Homo sapiens: one gene and its partners. The protein of the gene in region 5 interacts with the protein of the main gene of each other region in a pairwise test. Each region holds a gene or a part of one and is shown on either strand. Other genes may lie near its edges.

Region 1 (4,020 bases), on a different chromosome or scaffold from region 5:
CTTAGTGACATGAGCTCAAGTAGGCTACTAGGAGGTGACCTCAGGAAGCTTGAATAAGGGAATGGCAAATAAGACAGGAAAAGGAGGAAAACAAATCAAGGATGTTTGGCGAGTGGATATCTGCAGTATAGGGGGTCTTCAAAATCACCCTCAGGTCCAATGATTCACCACAGAACTTGGAAAAACTGTTATTCTCATGGTTACAGTTTATTACAGAAAAAGCATACAGACCAAAATCAGCAAAGTGAAAGATTGCTGCTATGGTCTGAATGTTTTGTTCCCCCAAAATTCTTATGTTGAATCCTAATCCCCATGTGGGAGGTGATTAGACCATGAAGGCTCTGTCCTCATGAATGGGGTTGGTGCCCTTATAACAGAAACCCAAGAGAACTGTCTTGCTGCTTCTATTGCATGAGAAGGCACCACCTATGAAGGAGAGCAAGCCCTCACCAGACACTGAATCTGCTGGTACCTTGATCTGGGACTTCCTAGCTTCTGGAACCATTAGGAAATAAATTCCTGTTGTTTATAAGCCTCCCTGTTTATGGTAATTTGTTATAGCAGCCCAGCAGACTAAGAAAGGGGAAAGAGTCCTCTTTGTCATAGGAAAAAGTCCAAGAGAGACCAGATGCAAGCTTCCAGTTGTTCTCCTCAACTGGAGTTATACGAGCAGTGCCTAATTCTCCTTGCAAGGATGTGTGACAACACACTTAGGGTATTGCCACCCAAGAAGACTCACCTGAGCCTTGGTGTCCAGCATAGTTAGAGGACGTTGGTCATATAGTCATGGCTGACCATCTGGGTAGCTGAGCCTCCTTGCAGAGGTAGCTTGCAGAGGTCCAGCTAATGTTGAGTGGCCCAAGGTCCTCACCATAAATCACAGTTAGCACAGACAAGCTGGCATGGCTCAGGCAGGAAGCTGCAGGTGCTTGAGGAAGGACACTATCTATAGAAACCATGAGTAGCCTCCAAGGTGGGCTGAGGGGTAGGCAGGGCACCAACAGCCCCAGCTACACTCCCTCAGGGACAGTCTTGCCATTTCCCGTTTTTCATTCTTATAAACAATGCCCTGGTGCAGGGGTCAGCAAACTTTTCTATAAGGAGTCAGATAATCTTTTTTTTTTTTTTGTATTCCCTTTTGGCAATTTGTTTAATTGAGATAAAATTCACATAACTTAAAACTCACCCTTTTGGTGTATACGATTCAGTGCTTTTTAGTATATTTTCAAGATTGTGCAACCAACACCACTATCTAATTCCAGAACATTTTTATCACCCCAAAAAGGAGCCCTGTGCCAATTAGCTATCACACCCCATTCCCTCTTTCCTCTATCCTTGATAACCACTAATGGTAATTTCTGTCTCTAAAGATCTGCCTATTCTGGACATTTCATATAAATGGATCATAATATATGACCTTAAAAACTTGGTACATAGGCCAGCCATGGTGACTTATGCCTGTAATCCCAGCATTTTGGAAGGCCGAGGTGGGCAGATCACCTGAGGTCAGGAGTTCAAGACCAGCCTGCCCAATGTGGCAAAACCCTGTCTCTACTAAAAATACAAAAATTAGCCAGGCATGGTGGTGGGCACCTGTACCCAGCTACTTGGGAGTCTGAGGCAGGAGAATCACTTGAGCCCGGGAGGCAGAGGTTGCAGTGAGCCGAGATCACGCCACTGCATCCCAGCCTGGGTGACAACAGTGAAATTACAACTCAAAAAAAAAAAAAAAAAAGAAAAGAAAAAAAAAACTTGGACATAAATGTTTACAGTAGCATTATCCATAATAATAGTCAAAATGTGGAAACAACCCAAATGTCCATCATCTGATGAACAGATAAGCAAAACATGGCATATCCATACAATGGAACGTTAGCTGGCCATAAAAAGTAGCACTACAACATGGATGAACCAGACAGATAGCAGATATGTGAGGCTTTGAGAGCCACATGGCCTCCAAATTATTCAGCTGCTGTGGTCTGAATAGTTGTCCCCCACCCTGCCAAATTTGTATGTTGAATTCCTAACCCACAAAGTGATGGCATTAGGAGGCGGGACCTTTGGGAGATGATTAGGTCATGAAGGTTGGAGCCCTCATAATTGGGATTAGTGCCCTTATAGAAGATGCCCCAGAGAACTAGCCTGTCCCTTCCACCATGTGGGGACTCAGTGAGAAGATACCACCTATGAGGAAGCAGCTTCTCACCAGACACCGAATTTGCCAGTGGCTTGATCTTGAACTTCCCAGCCTCCAGAACTGTGAGCAATAAGTTTTTGTTGTTTATAAGCCACCCAGTTTATGGCATTTTGTTACAGCGGCCTGAATGGACTAAGACATCAACTCTGCCCTTTTTGCACAAAAGCAGCATTATGTAAACAAATGGGTTTGACTGTGTTCCAATAAAACTTTATTTACAAAAACAGGTAGTAGTCCATATTTGACTGGGAGGCTCTAGTTTGCCCATTCCTGCTATATAAAATATCCTTGTATGTGTATTTTTGTCCATTTGTGCAGAAAATTCTATGGGATCAATTCCTAGAAGTGAAATTGCTGAGTCATGAGTTATGACATATTTATTTTGAACAGATGCTGTGAACCACCCCAAAATTTGAACCAACTTGCTTTTCCACCAGCGGCACATGAGAGTACGTGAGACTGAGATTTCCCCCACCTTTTTTTTTTTTTGAGACAAGCAAGGTCACTTTGCTACCCAGGCTAGAGCCAGTGCAGTGGCACCATCACTGCAGCCTTGACTTCCCTGGACTCAGGTGATCCTCCCACCTCAGCCTCCTGAGTAGCTGGGACTACAGGCACACACCACTATGTCTGGCTGATTTTTTGTATTTTTTAGTAAAGGCAGGGTTTTTCCATGTTGCCCAGACTAGTCTCAGACTCCTGGGCTCAAGCGATCCACCTGCCTCAGCCTCCCAAAGTGCTGGGATTACAGATGCGAGCCACCGTGCCCAGTCAGAATTTCCTTTCTTAAAGCCCTTTCACAAAGAAGTAGAACCCATACCCATTTAGAAGGGAAGTTTCTGCATTGTCATTCTTGAGCTTTGGAGAGGAAGAAGAAGATAGAACATTTTGCCCCCAAAGAAGAAAACTAAATGGGGCCTGAAGTGGTCTCATAATAGTATCTTATTTTAGATTTGAGGCTCACAGGGAAGGGGACTCTGGTAACTTGTCCTCATTTGGTGAGATCAAACCTTACACTGCCCACTAAGTGTCATTCCTAAAAGCCTTGAGTGTTACCTGTTCAATTATTTTTTCAAATGCAGAGAGCTCCTTAGCAATTTCATTTATTAAGCAAAGCTTCCATTCCTATTATTTCTCTTTGTAAGTAATTTGCATGTAAATGAGGTCCACCTATGCATACTGAGCATGTTACCAAATGTACAAAAAATATACATGGTCCAATTTTTCTCCACAGAGCTGACAGGTACCCATCCCTCTTGCTGAAGATGACATAGTATTTCACGTAGCCTAGTTTTCCCTAAGTCTTTTTGGCTTTTGGACGATGGATGGAGTTTTTGTTTTTATTTTTCCATTTTTCTTTTTTCTCCCTCATTTTCATCATTTGGAATTCGTGGTGTGAAACCCACAGGGGAGAACAGAGGCTCATTAGCATTCAAGCTCTGTTTTTGGCAGCATATTTTAGTTGCTTTATATGATATTCAGCATCCCTCCTGGGATCTAGCCTGCCTTTGCTCGGCTCACGCTGGGTGAATCTGTGATATTTCCCATTCTGTAGCCCTTCATTTATAACACAGGCATAGCCTGCTTTCCCATTAGTGAGATGGCATGCCTGGACTACCCACACACAGATCAAGAATTAGGCGGAACTTGGCCGGGAAGATAAATCAAGTTAACCGTCTCATTAGGCTTGAAAGACACAAATTAAGCTGAAGTTGGGATTAACAGAGAAGCCTTTCAAAGAGACATGCAGCACAACAAGGGGTGGAAGAAGTTGCCGTAGCCATTACTCTCAGAAAATTTCCAGCATTTGATGGAACAGAGGA
Region 2 (4,224 bases), on a different chromosome or scaffold from region 5:
AGGGATTCGACTTCTTCCTGGCTTAGACTTGGGAGGGTGTATGTGTCCAGGAATTTATCCATTTCTTCTAGATTTTCTAGTTTATTTGTGAAGAGGTGTTTATAGTATTCTCTGATGGTAGTTTGTATTTCTGTGGGATCAGTGATGATACCCCTCTTATCATTTTTTATTGTGTCTATTTGATTCTTCTCTCTTTTCTTCCTTATTAGTCTGGCTAGCAGTATATCTATTTTGCAGATCTTTTTTAAAAAAACCAGCTCCTGGATTCATTGATTTTTTGAAGTGTTGTTAATGTCTCTATCTCCTTCAGTTCTACTCTGATCTTAGTTATTTCATGCCTTCTGCTAGCTTTTGAATTTGTTTGCTGTTGCTTCTCTAGTTCTTTTAATTTTGATGTTAGGGTGTCAATTTTAGATCTTTCCTGCTTTGTCTTATGGGTATTTAATGCTATAAATTTATCTCTAAACACTGCTTTAAATGTGTCCCACAGATTCTGGTAAGTTGTCTTCGTTCTCATTGGTTTCAAAGAACATCTTTATTTCTGCCTTCATTTCGTTATTTACCCAGTAGTCATTCAGGAGCAGGTTGTTCAGTTTCTATGTATTTGTGTGCTTTTGAGTGAGTTTCTTAAACCTGAGTTCTAATTTGATTGCTCTGTGATCTGAGAGACTGTTTGTTATTATTTCCATACTTTTGCATTTGCTGAAGAGTGTTTTACTTCCAATTATGTGGTCAATTTTAGAATAAGTGCTATCTGGTGCCGAGAAGAATGTATATTCTGTTGATTTGGGGTGGAGAGTTTTGTAGAGGTCTATTAGGTCCACTTGGTCTAGACCTGAGTTCAAGTCCTGAATATCCTTGTTCATTTTCTGTCTCATTGATCTGTCTAATATTGACAGTGGGGTGTTAAAGTCTCTCACTATTATTGTGTGGGAGTATAAGTCTCTTTGTAGGTCTCTAAGAATTTGCTTTATGAATCTGGGTGCTTCTGTATTGGGTGCATATATATTTAGGATGGTTAGTTCTTGCTGCATTGTTCCCTTTACCATTATGTAATGCCCTTCTTTGCCTCTTTTGATCTTTGTTGGTTTAAAGTCTGTTTTATCAGAGATTAGGATTGCAACCCCTGCTTTTTTTTGCTTTCCATTTGCTTGGTAAATATTCTCCCATCCCTTTATTTTGAGCCTATGTGTGTCTTTGCACGTGAGATCAGTTTCCTGAATATAGCACACTGATGGGTCTTGACTCTTTATCCAGTTTGCCAGTCTGTGTCTTTTAATTGGGGCATTTAGTCCGTTTACATTTAAGGTTAATATTGTTATGTGTGTACTTGATCCTGTCATTATGATGCTAGCTGATTGTTTTGCCCATTAGTTAATGCAGTTCCTTCATAGTGTCAATGGCCTTTACATTTTGGTTTGTTTTTGCAGTGGCTGGTACCGGTTTTTCCTTTTCATGTTTAGTGCGTCTTTCAGGAGCTCTTGTAAGGCAGGTCTGGTGATGGCAAAATCCCTCAGCATTTGCTTGTCTGTAAAGGATTTTATTTCTCCTTTGCTTATGAAGCTTAGTTTGGCTGGATATGAAATTCTGGGTTAAAAATTCTTTTCTTTAATGAACGTTGAATATTGGCCCTCACTCTCTTCTGGCTTGTAGGTTTTCTGCAGACAGATTCACTCACTGTTAGTATGATGAGCTTCCCTTTGTGGTTAACCCAACCTTTCTCTTTGGCTGCCCTTGGCATTTTTTCTTTCATTTCAACCTTGGTGAATCTGACGATTATGTGTCTTGGGGTTGCTCTTCTTGAAGAGCATCTTTGTGGAGTTCTCTGTATTTCCTGAATTTGGATCTTGGCCTGTCTTGCTTGGTTGGGGAATATCTCCTGGATAATAACCTGAAGAGTGTTTTCCAGCTTGGTTCCATTCTCCCCATCACTTTCAAGTACATTTTCAGTCAAATGTAGATTTGGTCTTTTAACATAATCCCATATTTCTTGGAGGCTTTGTTTGTTCCTTTTTATTCTTTTTTCTCTAATCTTGTCTTCTCTCTTTATTTCATTAAGTTAATCTTCAATCACTGATATCCTTTCTTCTGCTTGATTGATTTGGCTATTGATACTTGTGTATTCCTCACGAAGTTCTTGTGCTGTGTTCAGCCCCATCAGGTCATTTATGTTCTTCTCTACATTGGTTATTCTAGTTAGCAATTCGACTAACCTTTTTTCAAGGTTCTTAGCTTCCTTGCAGTGGGTTAGAACATACTCCTTTAGCTTGGAGTTGTTTGTTATTACCATCGTTCTGAAGCCTACTTCTGTCAGTTCATCAAACTCATTCTCCATCCAGTTTTGTTCCCTTGCTGGCTATGAGTTGTGATCCTTTGGAGGAGGAAAGGTGTTCTGGTTTTTGGAATTTTCAGCCTTTTTGTGCTGGTTTTTCCCCATCTTTGTGGAATTATCTACCTTTGGTCTTTGATGTTGGTGACCTTTGGATGGGGTCTTTGAGTGGACATGCTAATCCTTTCTGTTTGTTTCTTTTCCTTTTAACAGTCAGGCCCCTCTGCTGTCAGCCTGCTGGAGTTTACTGAAAGTCCACTCCCAACCCTGTTTGCCTGGGTATCACCAGTGGAGGCTGCAGAGCAGCAAAGATTGCTGCCTGTTCTTTCCTCTGGAAGCTTTAACCCAGAGGGGCACCTGCCAGATGCCAGCCAGAGCGCTCCTGTATGAGGTGTCTGTTGGCCCCAGTTGGGAGGTGTCTCCCAGTCAGTATACACAGGAGTCAGGGATCCACTTGAGAAGGTAGACTGACCCTTAGCAGAGCTCGAATGCTGGGCTGGGAGGTTTGCTGCTCTCTTCAGAGCCATCAGGCTGGGACGTTTAAGTCTGCTATAAGCCCCTGACTGGGGCTGCTGCCTTTTTTACAGAGATGCCCTGTCCAAAGAGGAGCAATCTGCCAGTCTGGCCACAGCAGCCTTGCTGAGCTGCAGTGTGCTCCACCCAATTTGAACTTCCTAGCAGCTTTGTTTACACTGTGGCTGTAAAACCGCCTACTCAAGCCTCAGCAATGGTGGACACCCCTCCCCGACCAAGCTTGACCATCCCAGATAGATCTCAGATTTCTGCTGTGCTGGCAGTGAGAATTTCAAGCCAGTGGATCTTAGTTTCCTGGGCTCCGTGGGGATGGGACCCGCTGAGCCAGACCTCTTGGCTGCCTGGGTTCATTGCCCCCTTTCCAGGGAAGTGAACGGTTCTGTTTTGCTGGTGTTCCAGGCGCCACTGGGATATGGGAGAAAAAAAAAAAAGCCCCTGCAGCTAGTTTGATGTCTGCCCAATTGGCTGCCCAGTTTTGTGCTTGAAACCCAGGGCCCTGGTGAGGTAGTCACTGGAGGGAATCTCCTGGTTTGCAGGTTGCAAAGACCATGGGACAAGCGCAGCATCTGTGCCAGAGTTCCTCAGGCTCAGACCCTCACGGCTTCCCTTGGGTAGGGGGGAACATTCTCTGGCCCTTTGCACTTCCCAGGTGAGGTGATGCCCCACCATACATTGGCTTGCCCTCCATGGGCTACACCCTCTGTCCAACCAGTTCCAATGAGATGAACTGGGTTCCTCAGTTGGAAATGCAGAACTCACTTGCCTTCTGCGTTGATCTTGCTGGGGGCTGCAGACCAGTGCTGTTTCTATTCAGCCATCTTGAATCTACTCCCCCTTACGGACTTTAATGAGCATCTATTGTGACTCCTGCATGCTCCTTATCATACATTCTTTCTGGATCTGATGGATGCTTGATTTGGGAGGGACACAAAAATGACAAAAACATGTTATCTTCTCTGAATAGGTCTTAATATAGGAAGATCACGAGACCATGTCCTTTGCAGGAACATGGATGGAGCTGAAGGTCATTATCTTTAGCAAACTAACACAGGAACAGAAAACCAAATACCTTTCTCACTTATAAGTTGAAACTAAATGATGAGAACACATGGACACAAAGAGGGAACAGCAGACACTGGGGACCACCAGAGAGTGGATGGTGGGAGGAGGGAGAGGATCGGGAAAAATAACTAATTGGTACTAGGCTTAATACCCAGGTGATGAAAATCTGTCCAGAAATCCCCCATGACAAGGTTTTACCAATATAACAAACCTGCAGATGTACCCCTAAACTTAAAAAGAAAAATAAAATATAGGAAAGAGAAAGATTATTATGATTTAAACAGATTAGCTGAATGTGA
Region 3 (4,224 bases), on a different chromosome or scaffold from region 5:
AACTGTATACTAGTTCTAATACATTGGAAAATCTAAGTGAAGTAAATGGCTAAAAAGTACAAAAAAATACAAGAAATAGAAAATCTAAGCAAACCAGTAAGTGAGGAAGACATAAGAAGAATCTGTCAGCTAAGAGGAGAAAGTTACTGAAGGAAGGAAGGAATGAGCAGTTAAATCGAAGACTGGATGAGATCAGTCAGAGAAGTCTCTTTGGATTTGTATCTTAGACATTATTTATGACCCCAAGGAGGTTTTTTCAGTGAAACAGAATGGATGTCCACATGCTGTGGGGCTGCAAAGAGAATTGGGGGTAAGGAAGTGGACACGGATTAGATTAAACAGTTTAATGTGGTTCTGCTGTAAATGATACCCAGGGCAGAGTCTTGAGCATACTTAAATTATAATTGTCAAGAGCCAGTAGAGAGGGGAAGGATGAATATGCGAAGGAGAAAACAGCATTGATGGTGAGAAGTCCCTGAGGAATTGAGGTCTGGAGTAATTGGCAAGGGATTTGCCCTAGACAGACAGAGGAGGGTTCTCTGTTTCACTGTGAAATGAAAGGACCAATGAAGATCCAGCTCATGACTGGAGTTGGGAGGAATTTGGAGGAGTTCCTGACTGGTTGCTTCCATAAAATGAGATGGTTTAGTCATCTGCTGAAAATGAGGGGAGAATGAAAGGATGGGAAATTCGTGAGAATGGAGACAGTGGAATGGTCAGTGTAGACAATAGGAAAGAAAATGAAATGGGTAAATACCCCAGGACCAATAGGCAATGTTGAGGCCCCAGTGGTTTTTGCCAGCATTGTTTTGCGCATGCTATAGGCATGGAGAACGCCAAGTGGACTTAAACTTACTGGTCTCAGGTCTCATTCTCAATTATTGATAGACCCAGAGAGCTTTTATTTACATAGGACACATTTATTGATAATTACCGTATTAGAAATTAAAGCCAGGAAATTACAAAATGTATATTCCATGTAGAAATGCAATAATAAACCCATAGTATGCTAACAGATATTTTTATGAAAAGACTATATTTGCGAAAACAAACACTTCAGTGAGAAAAGTGACATTGTTTTAGAAACCTCTGGCATAGTAGTTGGATTCTATTTCTCTCTCCAGTCTGTTGCTGTATGTTGTTTTCAAGTACACGAAGAAAATTCATCCACAGATAAGTAGTTAGAAAAAGGAGTATCTTAATAGCCTTTTCAGATAATTGTGGATATTCTTCTTGATACTACACCAAAACTAGACAATTGGTTTCTTAAAGATCAGTTGCAATGTGGATTCTGAAATCATTTCAATGAACTTTTCATACATTAAAGCCTGTTCTATTTTGCTCTTTGAATGGATCTTTTTACCTAGATGTGATTTTGTAACATCTTGATTTTGTAATGTCATGGTTCAGTGAATTATGCAGATCTTCTTAATGTTGACATTTTTGATTAGATAATATTAAAAAATCTCATTAATATCACCACTGATTTCATTGGAAAAGGCTTCAAGTATTGGGAAGCTATTAAGCTCCTGGTGGTGGGTACAAGTTTTCCACTTTTCCAGTTCTCACTTGACAGCTGGAATTTTATCATCGGTGGTAAATACTATCATTGTTTTCTTTTAGCTTTAAGCTTGTTTTGTTCAGTTCTGAGAAAATGTCTACCAAACACCCAAATCTGACTAATCAAACAATTGCACAAGTGCTTTTCTTTGAGGAAACCATTCTACTTTAGTATGTAACAAAAGTGCTTTATACATTTTATTTTTTCATGCTGATTATTAAAAGGCTGTGTACTCAAAGGTTGAGATTTAGGAAAATTATGCTAATTATACTTCGTCAAGGACATTCTTAAGAGAAACTAGACTTTTTATTTTTTTGTAAGTGCATGTTGGTGAAGAATACAGTTTGAAGGCCTTGCCTTTATTTTTGCTGATGCCAGTAGTCCCCCTTCCCAAATCCTCCCCCCATGTTGCTTTTGGACTGTCAGTGCAAATCTGAGCACAATGAAAACGGGGCACATAATGTCTTAGTATATCATGAAAATAAATTTGACCTTGCAAAACCTCTGAAAGAGCCTCTGTGGACCACATTTTGAGATGTTCTAGGCTTGAGATTTTGTTAGGTGTGTTCAATGGAATTGAGACATGGTCATCAAAGATAACATAGTTAAAAAGATTGGACCATGGCCTCCGGCCTGGAGAGTGTTTTTTCCTTTCTTTCTACACAGCCCTTTCTGAGAGGATACCAATGTGTGTTTGCCAACTTATTTGAAATATGACAATTATATACTACCTAGTCAAAAACAATTTTAGATGCCGAAATAATATTTTGGGAGTGAAGAACTGTAGCTTGGAAGACTAGATCAGAACAAAGGGTTTAAGGACCAGAGTTCTAGTTGCTACTCATCATTCTTCCTGAGTTCTGGGAATGTCACCTAACCTAATTCTCAGCGTTCTCATCTCTAAAAAGGGGTTAATACTATTTGCCCCCACCGTACTCAGGGTAGTTTTGATGTTCAGATGATACCATCGGTTCCTTACCCCAGATAACATCTTCATCTTTATTTCCGTAAAACTGTGCTTGTTGTGTGGTAGATAAGTCTGGAAATGTTTATTGAATTAAGGAATGAACTTTTAGAAAAACCTTATTCTGAAAGTTTTAAACATAATACAAAAATAGATAAAATTTTATGATGAGCCCCTGTATATCCTTCCCCTGAAACATGCAGCTCTAGAAAATGACATGTTCCTTTAAAACCAAAATATGATCACACCCAACAAAATTAAAATTAGTTTGTTAATTTTATCAGATACTCTTCTCACATTCGTATATTTTCCAACTGAATTAAAATATGTACATACATTTGCTTTTACAGTTGGTTTTTCAAGTCAGGTCAACACGAAGTTCAATCCTTGCATTTGCTTATTATGAATCTTGGTTTCTTTTAATGAAGAACGTTGTCATTTTCTCAACTTGGCTGATTTTTTCCATGCCATTGACTTGCTGGAGAAACTGGGGCTAGTTTTGTAAAATGTCTTTGATTTGTGTAATTGCTTCCTGGCATATTGACACTTAGTTAATTCCTCTCTTCCCTACATTTAACAAGGATACTTCGTAGACGATGGCTGGGTAATTCCTGTAGTATAACATAGGTGGTACATAATCTTTTACTGATGTCAAGCTTGATCATTGGGTTCAAATGGTGGCAGGCTCATCTTTCCATTGTCACCATTGGCCTTTTTCATAAGGTTTTAGCATCCATTGATGATCATTGTCTGAGTGAATGAGCTTTGGAACTATGAGGTGCTAAATACTTGTGTGGAGGTAGTACACAGGTAATATTATATCATTACTGTTAATACAGTCGGGGACAGTGTCTTTATTTGAACAAAGCCATCTTTGGAATAATATCCAAGAGGCAGAGCTGCGATGGCAACAAGCCTCCAAATTACGGACTGTAGATGTAACAATAAGGATAATTTTATGTATAATGTGGAAAGGACTGACATCTTTTTAGCCACAGACAAGATTTAGAGCTTGTCTCTTTACATCAAATCATATCACAACAAATACCTTGTGAGAGGATCATTTGAACCCAGGGAGTCGAAGTTGTGGCCTTGATTGTGCCACTCCACTCCAGCCCGCGTGACAGAGAGATACCCTGTCTCCAAAACAAACAGAAAACCAGAAAAACGCACAAAAAACCCCAAATATCCTTAAATCATTTTTTAAATAAAAGAGTTCACCAAGACCACCCTATATGTAGATTATTTTAAGAACTGATTGATATAATAAGGTTCCAGGTAACAAGAAAGAACTTACACTCCTGGAGTTCCCTTGTTATGTGGGATATCAAATGTAGGCTATATATGTCATAATTTTGTTTCTGTTAGGAAAAAATAATTGAGGTATACCATTTTATGTGTTTCATAATGAATCCATTTGAAGAAATTATCATTGAACTCAGACATTAAGAAGTGAAAACATTTGGAAAATATTCTTGGTCTCCTCTTTGCTGATGGACTTGCCTACTGATTGATACTGCAAGAAAAATACTTGAACTTACCACATATCGGTGCCCATAGTCGTAGTGGAGGGTTGTTGATGTGCTTGGGGAATCAATGTATTCATCTCTGGAACCAAAAAATATTTATTTTATCCAATTCTTGAAAAACTGAAGAGTGTTTCCAAAGTTTTCTAAAGGTATTTGTTGACTATGGGACA
Region 4 (4,224 bases), on a different chromosome or scaffold from region 5:
TTGAAGACCTCAAGTAGTTTAAGAGGGGACTCTGCCCCTCTGCTTCCACACCTGGAGTCTTATTTCTTGGGTACAATTCTAGCTTCCAGTCTTTTGTAATAGGATAGAAACATTCCCTTCTGATTGATGTGACATTCAGTACTTTCTGTAAACCAGTGGTTCTCAAATTTTGCTACACAGAACCTGGAGAGCTTTTTATAAAATCTTGATGTCCATACTGTATTCTATTCCTATTAAATCAGAATCCGTGGTCCAGGCACAGTGGCTCACACCTGTAATCCCAGCACTTTGGAGGCCAAGGCGGGAGGATCACTTGAGGTCAGGAGTTCAAGACCAGCCTGAGCAACATTGCACACCTCGTGTTTTGCAATGCCGAAATACAAAAAATTAGCTTGGCATGGTGGCACGTGCCTGTAGTCTCAGCTACTTGGGAGGCTGAGGTGGGAGGATTGATTGAGCCTTGGAGGCATAGGTTGCAGTGAGCCGAATTCATGCCACTGCACTCTAGCCTGGGCAATAGAGTGAGACCCTGCCTCAAAAAAAAAAAAAAAAGAATCTAAGGGTGGGACCTGGGTATCCATGTTTTTTTAAAACTCTTCAGGTAATTTCAGTCAGGTTTTGACAATGCTAACCAGAGCTTCTAAAACTTTAATGTGCATAGGAATCACCTAGGGGTTCTTGTTAAAACAGTTAAAGTTCAGATTCTGATTGAGGATGTCTGGGGGTGGTCTGAGATTCTGTGTTCTTTGTTTGTTTGTTTTGCAAGCTTCCAGGTGATGCAGATACTGCTGCTGATCTTTGCACCACACTTTGATTCATGAGGCTGTACACTGTGCTGTCCTTAATGTTTCAAACACACCCCTTACCATTACTAGTCAAATGAGGGCAGAGGTTCCCCCAGAGCCTTTCTGTAATAATATCATCAAAACCTTGCTGCTTTGATCTTTAGATCCCACAAAAGTTCACTCTGAAAATTCTTCCCATATGCTCTCTCCTCTTATCATGTACTCACTGGTAAGCTAGGTTTAGATTCTGGAGTGAGCAGTGAGGTGCAATCAAAGTAATAAGGAAGAAAGTAGCTAGCTTGTTTCTCTGCCCAACTCACCCTGGGGGTTGGAGGAGACTCTGGCTTCCTTTTCTGTTTTTAAAAATTGTTCTATGGCCTCCAGGAATAGATAATTATGTTCTCATTCTCAAAATTGTAACCACACTACCCCCTACCACCAGTTCCCTCTTAAACATGTGCCTGCTTGTCTCTAGGGTCAGAACATATCCTGGGATATGGCGGTAGTCCTGAAAGCAACTCAGGAGGCACCTGCTGCTTCAACCCTTGGCAGCTACTCATTACCAGGGACTCTGGCCAAGAGTGAGATACTGGAGACTCATGGGACCATGAACTTTCTAGGTATGGTTCAGTTCCCTGATTCTGAATCTGACCATTGGGGTTTCTCAAAATCTTTTCAGAGACTGGTGGGCATCCAGTCTCCTAGGTTGACCAACAGAGTACTGAGGTATTGAAAGTGTCCAGGAAAGCTGGAAAGAGGAATGCTGAAATGCCTGTGCATTTGTCATGGGAAGTGGCTTATTTTGCACACAGGCTCAAGACACTAGACAAACATAGGTGTTGTGCTGAAACCTGATCAACACCAATATGGTACCAGGTTCAAGAGGCTGAAGAAGAGACCCAGAGCCAGCAAACAACATAGAATTTTACTAGGTGTTTATGTACAGGGTAGACAGTCTAGAGGCAGTGGACTGGGCACGGGAGAACCACATGGCCCAGTGGCACAGGCTGGACAGGAGAGCTGCAACTGCTTGCAAAAGGCATGCGGTTTATGTCGCATTTTCACTTAACACCCTCTCCCTAATGACCTCCACCTGGCAGCCTTAATTTAACCCAAAACAAGGGGCCTCAATCCCCTTTAAGGCCCGCATTCCACTGAAAGGGGTGGGGAATGGATAAGGAATGGATCTCCAGGTTGGCCACTTCTGGATTCCTTTGCTTGGAACTCCAAACTATATTCAGGTGTGTCTGCCATACAGGATCATTCTCAGGGTATGCTTAAGTTGTTGCCATCAGGTGTATTTACCATACAATAGGTGAATTCCAAACTCACTTTTTAGTGATATTTATTGTTCAATGAGTTTCATCTCTGTGCACACATGTAGGCACATGTCCTTTTTATACGCTTTGTAGTTAGCATAGGTTGGTGAGCCTGCAAGAGATGCTAGCCGAGGTAGGAACAGTCAACTTTTGTGGTGATTTTGAGCAAATGCCCTGGAGATGTTCTGTTTTCATAGATCTTTGTGCAAATTATAGAGGATTTTGAGCAGCTGTGTTAACCATAATGATGTTCAAAACTAGGTCTTCGTGAAGGGTACTGATGGCTTATCAACTTGTTCTCTCTAAGCTAGGACTAGAGAAAGGGTAGTATGTTCTAAAGATCTCACTGGCAGTGGCAGAAGCTTGCCTGTGGAGGAGTGACATATAAGTGAGGGTCAAGAATGCAGTAGCCATGAGTCCTGTGTTTCAAAGCACTTACTGGCTGATTGCCAAGCCCTATTCTTTTTATGAGTCTGCCAGATATTGAATATTTTGAACCCACTCTCCTCCCTAACCAGTTCCTCAGGCATCTGGGGACCAAGTCACTTTCTTAAACCAGTGCTATGGGGAAGACAAGGATCTCCACCTAGATTTTCTTGTCTCATATTTAATTATTCCCAAACTCTTAGCAGCTTCTGTTCCCCACTTTCTGCTTTGTGTTCCATTCTCTCTGGTGCATTCGCGTGCATGTCACTTATTTTCTGTCTCTGAGCTTTATCAGCCATTCATAGTCTTAACCCCAACAGCTGCACCTCATCAGGAATGGGCTCCCTTTTCCTACTTTGCCTCTTACCTCAAGACCATGTTCATACCCAAGACTTAGTATTTTGTGCTGCCAGCTATTTCCATGGCGATGGCAGGAACACTGCCAACACTATTTCCATGGCGATGTCAGCAGGCGATGGTGGGAACACTGAGCTCTATGTGTGAGAGATATCTGAGTGGGGTTGCTGCCCTGCCTGTAATAACTCTGTGACCTTGAGTAAGTCCCTTCTCTCTCTGGACCTCCATTTCCTGTTCTACAAATTGGGTGTGTTCATTAAGTACAGGATTTGTTGGCGGCCTCCTTCCTATGTGTCAGGCAGCGTGATAGGTGCTGGAGATACAGAAATGAATAAGACACAACCTTGCTCTTTTTTTAGCTGAAGGAGAACAGTTTCATCTTCATGATGAAATTGTATAATATACATGAAAGTGCTTTGGAAATTGTGATGTGTTACTGGGTTTTTAATGTCTGAGCAAGTTTTAACTGTAGTTTTCATATTTTAATTAATGTTGAATTTATTAAAGTTTATTCATTTAAAAACCAATTTTTAAGCCATTAAGCATAACTTTTTACTTCATCCATACATCTAGAAATATTTGTATAAAAGTGAGAACATTTGTATTTTTTCTTTAACTTATGTTCAGTTAAGCTTCAAATTTTACAGATTAAATTTTTTAAACATTTTGGCCGGGCGCAGTGGCTCAAGCCTGTAATCCTAGCACTTTGGGAGGCGGAGGCGGGTGAATCACCTGATATCAGGAGTTCGAGACCAGCCTGGCCAACATGGTGAAACCCTGTCTCTACTAAAAATTCAAAAATTAGCCAGGCATGGTGGTGCGTGCCTATAGTCCCAGCTACTTGGGAAGCTGAAGCAGGAGAATCGCTTGAACCCGGGAGACAGAGGTTGCAGTGAGCCAAGATTGCACCACTGCACTCCAGCCTGGGCAATAGAGCAAGACTCTGTCTAAAAAAATAAATTAATTAAAAATTTTAAACATTTAATTCTACCTGCTTATCAAATTTCTTTATATAAAACATAATTACAAATTTGATATCTTTAGTTCTTTAAAACATTCCAAACACCTAACTGGGCAGACTTACAAATCTTGTAAATAAAATCTTGATAAACACAGCTGTTATAAATCTAATGAATTGGACTTATAAATTTAGTAAATCAAATTACCCTTCTTATCTCAGAATACAGTCACCAGCTAAGGTGGCAGGCTTATGTAGCATTTCAGCTATCTTTAAAAAAAAAAAAAGAGTGAAAGAAGAGTATTGATTTAAAAACTATGGCTATGCCTGTGTTCTAGTTGGTCACAAATTAGTTTTTGTTTTAGTTTTTCATTATTTC
Region 5 (4,224 bases):
GGGAGAATCACTTGAATCCGGGGGCAGACATTGCAGTGAGCTGAGATCGTACCACTGCACTCCAGCCTGGGTAACAGAGTGAGACCCTATCTCAAAAAAATAATAATAATAATTTAAGTATTGAAATATGGAGTGATTTAAACGTAGATATGGATAAATTACTTTTGTAGGCTCAATTTAAAAAATCTAACATATGAGGTATTTTGTTGTTTTTTGTTGTTGTTGTTGGAGACAGTCTTGCTCTGTCACCCAGGCTGGAGTTCAGTGGCACAATCTTGGCTCACTGCAACCTCCACCTCTTGGGTTCAAGCAATTCTCCTGCCTCAGTCTCCCACGTAGCTGGGATTACAAGTGCTCCCCACCATGCCCAGCTAGCTCTCTGGGATCACTTTTATAAGGGCACCAATCCCAACAGTGAGGGTTCTACCCTTATAACCTAATCACCCCAAAGGCCCCAACTTCCTGCTACTCACATTGGTGATTAGGTTTCAATATACAAATTTTGAGGGGAGAAAAAAAAATAAGCACACAAGACGTATTAGCCGTTGTTGTTTTCAACTAACATAGCATCCTTATCTGTTTCATCCCTTTCATTTTCTGTGCCTTTTATGGCCATCGGACTGAATTTGTTTGTTATTTGTCTGTGAATAGACTATGAGGTCCATGAGGACGGGGATGTTTTTGTATTCATGGTTGTATTTCCAGCACTTAGAACGGTGCCTGACACAAATTAAGTGCCCAGCTATTTCTTAAATGAATGACTGAACCCCATTTTGCTCTGATTAAACAAAGCCACTAGGTGGTTAATAGCATACCCAAGGCCATTCAGATGAAAGTGATAGAGCCAGATAGGATTCAAACCTAGGAAGTCTAAAGCCTATACTCTACACAAGTGAAGCTCCAAACACTTTCTTTTAGGTACCCTATACAGTCACCTACCTAGTCTAGGTCACTTGGTAGTTTATCCATGCATCCAGTGGTTTCCCATCCCTATTCCCTTACTCTTTTTGCATTTCACATGAACTCCATCTACCTTCACCTCTCCAGACCTTAGTGCAACTCATTGAAGAAACCTGAGGTTATCTCCCATTCATTAATTCACCCACTCAGTCAACAAGTATTTTTTTAAGTGCCACCTGTATACCATATCCAGACTTACATTTTGTTCAGCCACCTCTTGTATTATTTGTTTTCAACTTGCATTGTCCTTGGTTGTCAATGGCTTTGCTTCTTTTTAGGTGTAAGCTTTATATTATAGAAATGTTGGTTGATTCATGACAGGCTCTCTAGTGTAACAAATCCAAATTACAGTTCTAGATGCACACAGTTTGGGTTTTGAATTCCAGCCTTACTAAATTCCTTAATGTTTTTATTCCGTGATTTCCTATAAAATGATAATAGTATTTATTCCGTGGAATTATCGGGAGGATTAATCAATGTATGTAAGCTCATAGATGCTTGGTGTATACTAATAATAAACTTATTATTTACATATTATTTTATTTGTAGCTATACTTACTCAGCACAATATTATTATTTTTCTACTTCCATGGTGCTTAGTGTAGTTTTTGTTGTGGTTTTCTAGTTTGACTGAAAATGTAGAAGATTGCAATAGTCGTGTTCCTGAGTTTGACACATAATCATCATTGATCCCTGAAAGGCTGCTGTTTTTCTAATGTATTTATTCTTTTCATTCCTATAGCTCATTCCATTTCTTAATGCAAACATTTTAATGTTTTGTTTACATGTATTCTTGAGAATGTGTATCTTTTAACTTTACAGAAATGTAAATTATATGCTTTGTTTTAGTTCTCATCTCTTTTTTCCTACTCAGCACTGTTTTTGAAGTTATCTATTACTTTGTATACATCTAGTCCTTTGCTTCCAACTCTTATGTAATTCTTTGTGTGCGTCTACCAGTCTTTCTACTCCTACATTGCTAGGCATCCAGATTGCCTCCAGCTCCTTGCAACACATGCAGCATTAGACATTTCTCTTCTGGACCTCTGTGAGCATGTCTTTGACATATATAAATGTCTCCTTCATTTAACTAAGTGTACTGCCAGGTTATCTCCAAAATAGCTGCCCTGCTGTATATTAGTAGAGTTTTTTTCTCTATCATACGAGCACTCAGGATTCTCTGCTTGAAGACTCTTTAGGAATAAGATGTTTGCTCTCAAATATATGAAGAAATACCTATTGTAGAGTTAGCCTTCCATAATTTATTGAACCTAAAGCACCTCTGTTGTAAGATGCATCATTACATACATTGCTAAGGTTAAACACTTCCAGTTGAATTGTTAAGTGCCTTAGATTGTAAAATGCATTCCAATTTTAGAGATGTTAAAATGTGAGAAAGTGTGAGTCTGGAGTTGATGAAAGAATATTTAAAAAATATTTTTATTAAAGAATATGTATATGTATGTTAATGTGTGTATGTGTGTATATATATGTTTACTTCTTACATGCCCTGGGAATAACACCTTAGACAGGCAAACAGCACTACACACATGATATATATTTTTTCACTTATTTGTTTATGTATAAATTGGTATGTGACATATTTCTTTATATGTTTTAAAATAACACCTTTATTTGTATGTGTTATTATATGTTTAGTTATGTCTTTATTTTTGTCTTTATGTGTGAAGCACTCCAGATGAACAAAGTGCTACACTGTTTCTTGTGAGCAGTGATTCTAAAGCTAGTACACCCCACTGAATTTTGTCCCTCTGGTCGATTGTGAGGACTCAGAAGTATATTGGACTCCTGGTGTTAGAGCTGTTTGTTTTCTTGGTGTTTCAATGAGGTCCAGCTCTAGAAGAAAGCAAAGAAGGTTCATGGGGTATTTTGAAATGAACAGGGTCCCCAAAAGCCTGATGGATCTGGTAACACCACGCGGTATTTGATTCAAATCTATCTGGTAGCATCCTCTCTGAATTTTTAAGTGAAGAAGAAAGGGGCTCAATTTGGTAGTGCTGCCATATACTTTTTTTTTCTTTTAATTTTTTTGAGACAGAGTCTCACTCTGTTGCCCAGGCTGGAGTGCAGTGGCATGATCTCAGCTCACTACAACCTTCACTTCCTGTGTTCAAGCGATTCTTGTGCCTCAGCCTCCCGAGTAGCTGGGACTGTAGGCCCGTGCCACAACGCCCAGCTAAGTTTTGTATTTTTGGTAGAGATGGGGGTTTCACTATGTTGGCCAGGCTGGTCTCGAACTCCTGGCCTCAAGCAATCCACCCATTTCAGCCTCCCAAAGTGCAGGTGTGAAGCCACTGCACCCAGCCATGCCATACACTTTTTAGCCTGGGCAGGAAACTTAAAGCCTAGGTCTTGAAAGAAAGGTATTTTTAATTGGTCATTCATTCTCCAAAGCTTATTGAGCATCGTATGCTAACGTTATGAAAAATAAATTTTCCTCACTAGACTATAGCTCCATGATAATGGTTGGAAGTCACAGGAAAGGTAGATTTCTGCTCAGTGTAAGCCTGTTATTGCTATTAACATTGAAATGGCCTGATCTTAAGTTTCTGAGCTTCCTGTCATTGGAAGCATTTAAGTAGTCCTGAATAGTCAACTGTTAATAAATATTATAGGTATTTCTATTTTGGAAAGAGATTGAACCAACTGCCCAGGGTTTCAAGGATTAAGTTCAGCAGTTAATACCAGAGACTTGAAAAATGGTGGTTTCTGGTAACAGAGACCTGGAAACCATGGCTTAAGCAAGAGAAGGATTTTGTTTCTTTGGTATAACAAAAATCCAAAAATAGGTATTTTAGTAGACCTCAAGTGATTACTCCTTGATCGCATTAGGAACCCAGGCTCCTTTTAACCTTAGCTATTTTCAACATATGCTTTTCACCTGAAATCATAAGATAGCTTATCTGCCTCCAGTATTGTGTACATGTAAAAGGTGGTAATAAGGAGAAGGATAGTGGAAAAGGGGGCATGTGCCAAATGAGTCAGTCCTCTTTAAAGAGTTCTTCCAGAAGTTCAAGCCAGTGGCCTCAATTGACTAACATTGTATAGCATGACCACCCCTACCTACAAGGGATGGGAAGCTAACTGGACATGTTGTTACTAATAAAAACCAGAGTATGTCAGAAAGAAGGGAAGGTTTGATGTTGGGAGGCAAGTAAGTTTTTTCTTCTACCCATCAAAATCTTTTTTTAGTTAGAAAATATTTGAATCTAACATGTCCCACTCCATTGTGGCACCAATACA
Region 6 (4,224 bases), on a different chromosome or scaffold from region 5:
CGTGAGCCACGGCACCCAGCAGTTTGTTGTTGTTTTTTGTTTTGTTTTTAAAGGTAGTTCTGAGCAATCCATTACTATGAGGGAAGGGCATGGTGTTTTCTTAGGAAGGCTTCCCTGTGAAATACTAGAATTATTACTAATTCTTAATTGACTATCACAAAGAAAGATTTTGGAAGCTGAACTAAACATGCTCTCATCCCTGTACAAGGGATGCTTTGACATGCACTTGCTATGCTTAAAAATGGAGACAGTGAGACAGAGAAGCAGAGGGAGAGACAAAGGGGCAGAGAGAGATAGAGGGAGAAAGAGAGAGGGAAAGACAGAGAGAGAGAGGTTTGTTAGGTTTAAAGGGACAGTGACACCTCCTATTTGGTGTGTTCACGGAATACTGCTTCTGCTTTATCATTAACCCTTGTACTTAAGTTTCACATTACTTTTACTCTTTTTAAGGCCTGGTCAAAAAAACAGTTCACCTACCAATTTTTCCAAACTCATTAGCAATGGTTATAAGGATGAGTGGTTGCAGCAGCAGCAGCGAGCTGACTCAGACAAGAGGACCCCGAAGACCTCCAGGGCATCAGTGTTATCTCAGTCCCCACGAGACCTGGAAGGTCCCCAGGATGCAGCCAGGCTCCAGGATGCAGAGGCTTCTGAAGGTCCTGAGGACACCCCAGGTGAGGCACAAGCAGCCATCTGCATTTATTGGAGGCTTGGTTAATTGTGATGCAGCAGCTGACGTTCTTATCACATGATGCGTCTCGTAATGAGAAATGAGTAACCCAAAAACCATGTGAAAACGCCCACAGAAGTACTAAGGTTACAGATAAGCAAGAGAGTAATACATGTTTTGCTCTTTCCTCTTTATTCAAATGAATAGCGGAAGTCATGACTTTTGGGGTTTCACATTTTCTTTTATTTGTCAAAAATTTTGATAGTCCATTTGATATAACAAACAAATAATATACCAAATAGTATCAACTTTTAATCTTCCAGATCCAAACAATGTTGACCCTAAAAGGACTTTTGCATAAGCAGCCGGTACTTTTTGAGATCACTTCTTAAAAAGCTTTGAAAATAAGTCAAAATTCAAACTTAAAATTACTCCATTATTGGCATGTCTTAAGCTTTGAATAATTTAGAACTTTCTCCACAATTAGATGTTCAAAGTACTATATTAGTTTTTATTTATTATAATATTTTATTTTATTTATTTATTTTTTGAGACAGAGTCTTACTCTGTTGTCCTGGCTGGAGTGAAGTGGCACAATCACAGATCACTGTAGCCTCAACCTCCTGGGCTCAAGCGATCCTCCCATCTAAGTCTCCCAAGTAGCTGGGACTATAGACATGCACCATTACACCCAGCTATTTTTTTATTTTTCATAAAGACAAGGCCTCACTATATTGCCCCGGCTGGTCTCAAACTCCTGGGCTCAAACAATTCTTTTGCCTCTGCCTTGCAAAGTACTGAGATTACAGGTGTGAGTCACTGTGCACAGCCATTCATTTTTATTTTTAATAGTACAGAAAGAATTCATCTTATTTTTTCAACACATCCATCTTAAAGCCTATTGACATTGTGTTCAGTATCCATAGCTCTATTAATTATTGACCATTTGCTTCTGGGAAACCTGTTTTTACTCTTGAGGCTTGAGCTCTTTGATTAAGAGGAAAGATGGCGTGTTATACCTCTTCAGACATTTGAAGTGTTTGGTGTGGTGTGGTTATTTGTAAGTGAGGTCACCGTTTGCCATTCTACACCCTGTTCCTTACTGTATTTGTTGAACAAGATCTGCCACTTATTGGCCAACTCTCTCCTTTATTATCCTGGAAGATGAGATGGTGACAAGTTCATACTCAGTGTTGTTAAAAAGCACCCTATTGGCTGAGCATGGTGGCTCACGCCTGTAATCCCAGCACTTCGGGAGGCCGAGGCAGGCAGATTACCTGAGGTCAGGAGTTCGAGACCAGCCTGACCAACATGGAGAAACCCCGTCTCTACTAAAAATACAAAATTATCTGGGAGTGGTGGCACATGCCTGTAATCCCAGCTACTCGGGAGGCTGAGGCAGGAGAATCACTTGAACCCAGGAGGCGGAGGTTGCGGTGAGCCGAGATCGTGCCACTGCACTCCAGCCTGGGCAACAAGAGGGAAACTCTCTCAAAAAAAAAAAAAAAAAAAAAGGTTTGTTGCCCTATTGAACTTTACAATGTCAAGAGTGTTTTATGACTTATTGTTGTTTTAAGTAATACAGAATTTTCATTAAATCTTTAAGTAATTATGACTTCTTTTAATACTTGATCTGTTTCATTAACCTGAACAACGAATGTACTTTTTATTACAGAGTCTTCTCAAAGTGAGTACTTATAAAGTAACCAGCACCAAAACACAAAAAGTCTTACACAAAGAAATTGATGGACATAGTCCTGCATTCTGAGACTACAGCCTCTAGGCAGCCTGGAATGTCCTTCTCCAAACTGCATGCATTCTGACTACAAAGCTTGTGCCATGTATGCTTTAAAAAAATCAGAGTTCCAGAAACTTAACTTAGGGAGAGCAAAAAGAGGATCGCTTACACAATTACAACAGGATGAAGATGATGATGATGATGATGATGATTATTATTATTATTATTATTTTTTTTGAGATGGAGTCTCGCTCTGTCGCCCAGGCTGGAGTGCAGTGGCGCGATCTCCGCTCACTGCAAGCTCCGCCTCCCGGGTTCACGCCATTCTCCCGCCTCAGCCTCCCGAGTAACTGGGACTACAGGCGCCCGCCACAACGCCCAGCTAATTTTTTGTATTTTTAGTAGAGGCGGGGTTTCACCGTGTTAGCCAGGATGGTCTCGATCTCCTGACCTCGTGATCCACCTGCCTCGGCCTCCGAAAGTGCTGAGATTACAGGCGTGAGCTACCGCGCCTGGCCTATTATTCTTTTATTCATGTTACACAAGCAAAAACATACTTTAGTTCATGGACACACATTGTATTACTCGTCATGTGAGAGTCATACTGGAAAACATAAGTAAAAAGCCATCGGAGACTCCAATTTATTTTTTAGTTTACTTTTTATTTTATTTTAAATCGACAGATAATAATTGTATACAACTATGGGGTGCAATGCGATGTTTTGATATATGTATACATTGTGGCATCATTAAATCAAGGTAACTAAAATATCCATTACCTCAAATACTTACCCTTTTTTTGTGGTGATCACACTTAAAATCTGTTCTTTTAATGATTTTGAAATATACAATATATTATTATTAACTTTATTCACCTTGCTGTGAAATAGATAATTAAAACTTAACTCCTCCTGTCTAAGGGAAACTTGGCACCCTTTGACCAACTTCTCCTCTTACCCCATCAACTACTGCCCCATCCCCAGCACCTGGTAACACATTCTATTCTACTTCTATGAGTTCAATTTTTTTAGATTCCATATATGGCTGCAATTATACAGTATCTGTCTTTCTGTACCTGGCTTATTTTACTTAGACTAATGTACTCCAGGTTCATCCATGTTGTCACAAATGACAGAATTTACTTCTTTTTTAAAGGCTGAATAGTGTTCCATCATGTATATACCACATTTTTTTTCCTTATTCATCTGTTCATGGCCAGTGAGGTTGATTCCATAGCTTGGCTATTGTGAATAATGCTGCAGAAAATTTGGGAGCGCAGATGTAGCTTTGTGACATACTGATTCCATTTCCTTTGATATATGCCCAGCAGTGGGATTGCTATATCATACGAGAATTCGATTTTTAGTTTTTTAAGGAAACTCCATAATGTTTTCCATTATGGCTATTCTAATTTACATTTCACCTTCAGTATGTAAGGGATCCCTTTTCTCCACATTATCATCAACACTTGCTTTTCATCTTTTTGATAATAGCCATTTTGACAGGTGTGAGATGATATCTCATTGTGGTTTTCATTTGCATTTCCCTGATGATAGTGATTTTGAGCTTTTTTGTATATACCTGTTGGCCATTTGCATGTCTTCTTTTGAGAAATGTCTATGTAAGTCCTTTGCCCATTTTTAAATTGGATTATTTGTTTTTTTGCTACTGAGTTGAGTTCCTTATACATTTTGGATATTAACCCCTTATCAGATGTATGGTTTCCAGATATTTTTCCTGCTCTGTGGCTTGTCTTTTGTTGTTTGTTTCTTTTGCTTGCAGAAACTTTTTAATGTAGTCCCACTTATTTTTCCTT
Region 7 (4,224 bases), on a different chromosome or scaffold from region 5:
GGTTGGGTAGCGACTAATAACTAAGAGGCAGGTGTGGAGCTGGGGCTCGCCGAGCCCAGCTGCCGTCTCGGCTTGCTGCTCAGATCCTTGATAGCAAAAACCACCAGGCACGTGGGGAACGCACTCCCTCCAGCCAGGGCCAGATAGAAGCTGCTGGAGGGGGTGTTGGCAGATCCAGAGTCTGGTCCATTCCTGCTGGAAATACCAAGCTCACGTTTTGCACCTACGTAGTTTTAGTCTGAAGTCAGCTAGAGTCACAGGCCAGGGAGCTTGACTGGTATGGGTGGAGGAGACAGGAATCTGGGGACCCATCTTTTCTTCTGTTTCATGGTGGTGAGATTAGCACTGAGCCAGTTTTTAGATTGAAGCCCCTCTGTTTTACTGCTTGTAAAATGGGACTGACGCCTCCCAGATCTGGAGAGGACTTTTCGGAGTGTGTCTAGTCCTGTACACCTGCCCTGTGAACCTCAGGGTCCTCACCCGCCTTCTTTGAACTTCTCAAACTAGAACCATGGTCAGTAAAAGCGACGGCTGCAATTGTTCTAAATCCATGAGCGTTATCCCACTTTACCGTCCTTTTTCCAGGGACATTGAACCTCCCTCTTCTCAGCCCTCCCCTGTGTTCCCCTGACCCACAGACAGTGCGCGGAGTCGGGGCTGACTTCGTGTGAGCTGTCCATAAGTGGTAGGGCTGTGGCTGTGACCTCGTAGAGGGCTGGAGAGATGACGCGTCCGTTCTCCACTGTGGCCCATCGAAGCTATGCTGGCAAAGAATGGAAATTCCCGCTAGTCTTCAGGGGCAGAGCGGTGACAATTCGAAGCCGAAGAGGGCTGTTCCTGGCCTTCTTTCCCCATATCCCTCGCTCAGGCTGTTGACCCGGCCATGCCACCCCTGTGTGCTGGACCGTGTGGGGCAGTGTCCCCAGGCCCGCCCTCCGCCCTGTGTCTCTGTGTTGTGGACAGAAGCCTCTTAGAGCGCTCCGTGCGGTAGGACCTCAGCCTCGGCCCTCCTAACCTCTTTCCTTTCTCTCTCTCTTTCCCCTCTCTCCCTCCTCCCCCCTTGCCTCTGCCCTTCAGGTCCGAGCCTCCGTACTGGGTGCAATGAAAGCTCCACGCAGGCCTTACCATGGAAGGCTGTGACTCGCCCGTCGTCTCGGGGAAGGACAATGGGTGCGGTATCCCTCAGCACCAGCAATGGACTGAACTCAACAGCACCCACCTCCCTGACAAACCCAGTAGCATGGAGCAGTCCACAGGCGAGAGCCACGGGCCCTTGGACAGCCTGAGGGCCCCCTTCAATGAGCGCCTCGCGGAGAGCACCGCGTCGGCCGGGCCCCCCTCCGAGCCCGCCAGCAAGGAGGTCACCTGCAACGAATGTTCGGCCTCCTTTGCCAGCCTCCAGACCTACATGGAGCACCACTGCCCCAGCGCGCGCCCCCCGCCACCCCTGAGAGAGGAGAGCGCCAGCGACACCGGTGAGGAGGGGGACGAGGAGAGTGACGTGGAGAACCTGGCCGGGGAGATCGTCTACCAGCCGGACGGCTCCGCGTACATTGTGGAGAGCCTGAGCCAGCTGACCCAGGGCGGGGGCGCCTGTGGGAGTGGCAGTGGCAGTGGGCCTCTCCCCTCGCTTTTCCTGAACTCTCTCCCTGGCGCGGGGGGCAAGCAAGGGGACCCTTCGTGTGCTGCACCCGTGTACCCGCAGATCATCAACACTTTCCACATAGCCTCATCCTTCGGGAAATGGTTTGAGGGCCCAGACCAGGCTTTCCCGAATACCTCAGCCCTGGCGGGGCTCAGCCCCGTCCTGCACAGCTTCCGCGTGTTTGACGTGCGACACAAAAGCAACAAGGATTACCTGAACAGCGACGGTTCTGCCAAAAGCTCCTGCGTATCCAAAGATGTTCCCAACAATGTGGACCTGTCCAAATTCGATGGCTTTGTGCTCTATGGCAAGAGGAAGCCCATCCTGATGTGTTTCTTGTGCAAACTCTCCTTTGGGTACGTCCGTTCGTTTGTGACCCACGCGGTGCATGACCATCGAATGACCCTGAGCGAAGACGAGCGGAAAATTCTTAGCAATAAGAACATCTCCGCTATCATCCAAGGGATCGGCAAAGACAAGGAACCCCTTGTAAGTTTTCTGGAACCAAAAAACAAAAACTTTCAACACCCTTTAGTTTCCACAGCTAACCTCATAGGCCCCGGACACAGTTTTTATGGTAAATTTAGTGGCATTCGAATGGAAGGGGAGGAAGCTCTCCCAGCGGGCTCCGCCGCTGGCCCCGAGCAGCCCCAGGCTGGTCTCTTGACCCCCAGCACCCTGTTGAACCTTGGCGGGCTCACCAGCTCGGTACTGAAGACCCCCATTACCTCAGTCCCCCTGGGGCCTCTGGCTTCCAGTCCTACCAAATCCTCAGAGGGCAAGGACTCTGGGGCGGCAGAAGGAGAGAAGCAGGAAGTGGGCGACGGGGATTGCTTCTCTGAGAAGGTAGAGCCAGCCGAAGAGGAGGCGGAGGAGGAAGAGGAGGAGGAAGAGGCGGAGGAGGAGGAGGAAGAAGAGGAGGAGGAAGAAGAGGAGGAGGAAGACGAGGGTTGCAAAGGACTCTTTCCAAGCGAGTTGGATGAGGAACTGGAGGACAGGCCCCATGAGGAGCCTGGGGCCGCAGCAGGTAGTAGCAGCAAAAAGGACCTTGCTCTCTCAAACCAAAGCATTTCTAACTCCCCCTTAATGCCTAACGTGCTCCAGACCCTGTCGAGGGGCACAGCTTCTACTAGTTCTAATTCTGCTTCTTCCTTTGTTGTCTTTGATGGTGCGAACAGGAGGAATCGTTTAAGCTTTAACAGTGAGGGCGTCAGGGCCAATGTGGCAGAGGGCGGCAGGAGGCTGGACTTCGCTGACGAAAGTGCCAATAAAGACAATGCCACAGCACCAGAACCAAATGAAAGCACAGAGGGTGACGATGGGGGCTTCGTTCCCCATCACCAGCACGCTGGCTCCCTCTGCGAGCTTGGGGTTGGGGAGTGCCCCTCGGGGAGTGGCGTGGAGTGCCCCAAATGCGACACGGTCCTGGGCTCCTCCCGCTCGCTGGGCGGCCACATGACCATGATGCATTCTCGTAACTCGTGTAAGACACTCAAGTGCCCCAAGTGCAACTGGCACTATAAGTACCAGCAGACCCTGGAGGCACACATGAAGGAGAAGCACCCGGAGCCGGGGGGCTCCTGTGTCTACTGCAAAAGCGGGCAGCCCCACCCCCGGCTGGCACGAGGCGAGAGCTACACGTGTGGTTACAAGCCTTTCCGCTGCGAGGTGTGTAACTACTCCACAACTACCAAAGGCAACCTCAGTATTCATATGCAGTCTGACAAGCATCTCAACAACATGCAGAACCTGCAGAATGGAGGGGGGGAGCAGGTCTTCAGCCACACTGCCGGGGCGGCGGCGGCGGCGGTGGCTGCGGCGGCGGCGGCAGCCAATATCAGTAGCTCCTGCGGGGCCCCCTCGCCGACCAAACCAAAAACCAAACCCACCTGGCGGTGCGAGGTGTGTGATTATGAGACCAACGTGGCCAGGAACCTCCGCATTCACATGACCAGTGAGAAGCACATGCATAACATGATGTTACTGCAACAGAACATGACCCAGATCCAACACAACCGCCACCTGGGCCTCGGCAGCCTGCCCTCACCCGCCGAGGCCGAGCTCTACCAATACTACCTGGCCCAGAACATGAACCTGCCCAACCTGAAGATGGACAGTGCTGCCTCGGACGCCCAGTTCATGATGAGCGGATTCCAGCTGGATCCCGCCGGGCCCATGGCCGCCATGACGCCTGCTCTAGGTGAGGATGACTACGTGTTTGTCTGTTTTCATGATAGGAGTTTAACCAGGGAGAATGGTGAATAGGGTGAGATAGTCCTGTGGATTCAGTTGACTCTGGTCTTCTCGAGTGGTTTTTGTGTAAACTGGAGTGTCTTACAATCAAGTATTCTCAAGAATCCCTTGAACTGTGTGTGTACATATGGAAGAGTTTATGCATTCAAAAGAGATATGCTTGTACTCTGGCTACGTGGGGCCAGGATTAAAATGTGAGTGTTTCCTCTAGTTTTCTGTTCCCATTCTCTCTTTCTCTGTCTCTTCTTTCAATTTGAAAAATCACTATAATCACCTAAAACTTTGGGGTTTCATCGAATATTTACTGAAACTTACAGGAAACTGTA

Evidence for each region.
Region 1: the proteins of PIBF1 (region 5) and SYT17 interact in a two-hybrid assay, tested with the Homo sapiens proteins (one large-scale study listed by BioGRID).
Region 2: the proteins of PIBF1 (region 5) and SPATA18 interact in a two-hybrid assay, tested with the Homo sapiens proteins (one large-scale study listed by BioGRID).
Region 3: the proteins of PIBF1 (region 5) and PRPF18 interact in a two-hybrid assay, tested with the Homo sapiens proteins (one large-scale study listed by BioGRID).
Region 4: the proteins of PIBF1 (region 5) and ZNF35 interact in a two-hybrid assay, tested with the Homo sapiens proteins (one large-scale study listed by BioGRID).
Region 6: the proteins of PIBF1 (region 5) and C7orf57 interact in a two-hybrid assay, tested with the Homo sapiens proteins (one large-scale study listed by BioGRID).
Region 7: the proteins of PIBF1 (region 5) and ZFHX3 interact in a two-hybrid assay, tested with the Homo sapiens proteins (one large-scale study listed by BioGRID).

The regions. Positions count from the first base shown.
Region 1 is NC_000016.10:19,261,924-19,265,943, forward strand, and holds part of SYT17 (synaptotagmin-17), read left to right. Parts: intron 1-4,020. UniProt on the Homo sapiens protein: Plays a role in dendrite formation by melanocytes.
Region 2 is NC_000004.12:52,088,979-52,093,202, forward strand, and holds part of SPATA18 (mitochondria-eating protein), read left to right. Parts: intron 1-4,224. UniProt on the Homo sapiens protein: Key regulator of mitochondrial quality that mediates the repairing or degradation of unhealthy mitochondria in response to mitochondrial damage.
Region 3 is NC_000010.11:13,593,183-13,597,406, forward strand, and holds part of PRPF18 (pre-mRNA-splicing factor 18), read left to right. Parts: intron 1-4,224.
Region 4 is NC_000003.12:44,651,297-44,655,520, forward strand, and holds part of ZNF35 (zinc finger protein 35), read left to right. Parts: intron 1-1,260; coding exon 1,261-1,405; intron 1,406-4,224. UniProt on the Homo sapiens protein: May be involved in transcriptional regulation. Involved in cell differentiation and/or proliferation.
Region 5 is NC_000013.11:72,784,665-72,788,888, forward strand, and holds part of PIBF1 (progesterone-induced-blocking factor 1), read left to right. Parts: intron 1-4,224.
Region 6 is NC_000007.14:48,052,250-48,056,473, forward strand, and holds part of C7orf57 (uncharacterized protein C7orf57), read left to right. Parts: intron 1-450; coding exon 451-674; intron 675-2,345; coding exon 2,346-2,357; intron 2,358-4,224.
Region 7 is NC_000016.10:72,957,048-72,961,271, reverse strand, and holds part of ZFHX3 (zinc finger homeobox protein 3), read left to right. Parts: exon of another isoform or gene 1-1,077; 5' UTR 1,078-1,126; coding exon 1,127-3,845; intron 3,846-3,869; exon of another isoform or gene 3,870-4,025; coding exon of another isoform or gene 4,026-4,092; intron 4,093-4,224.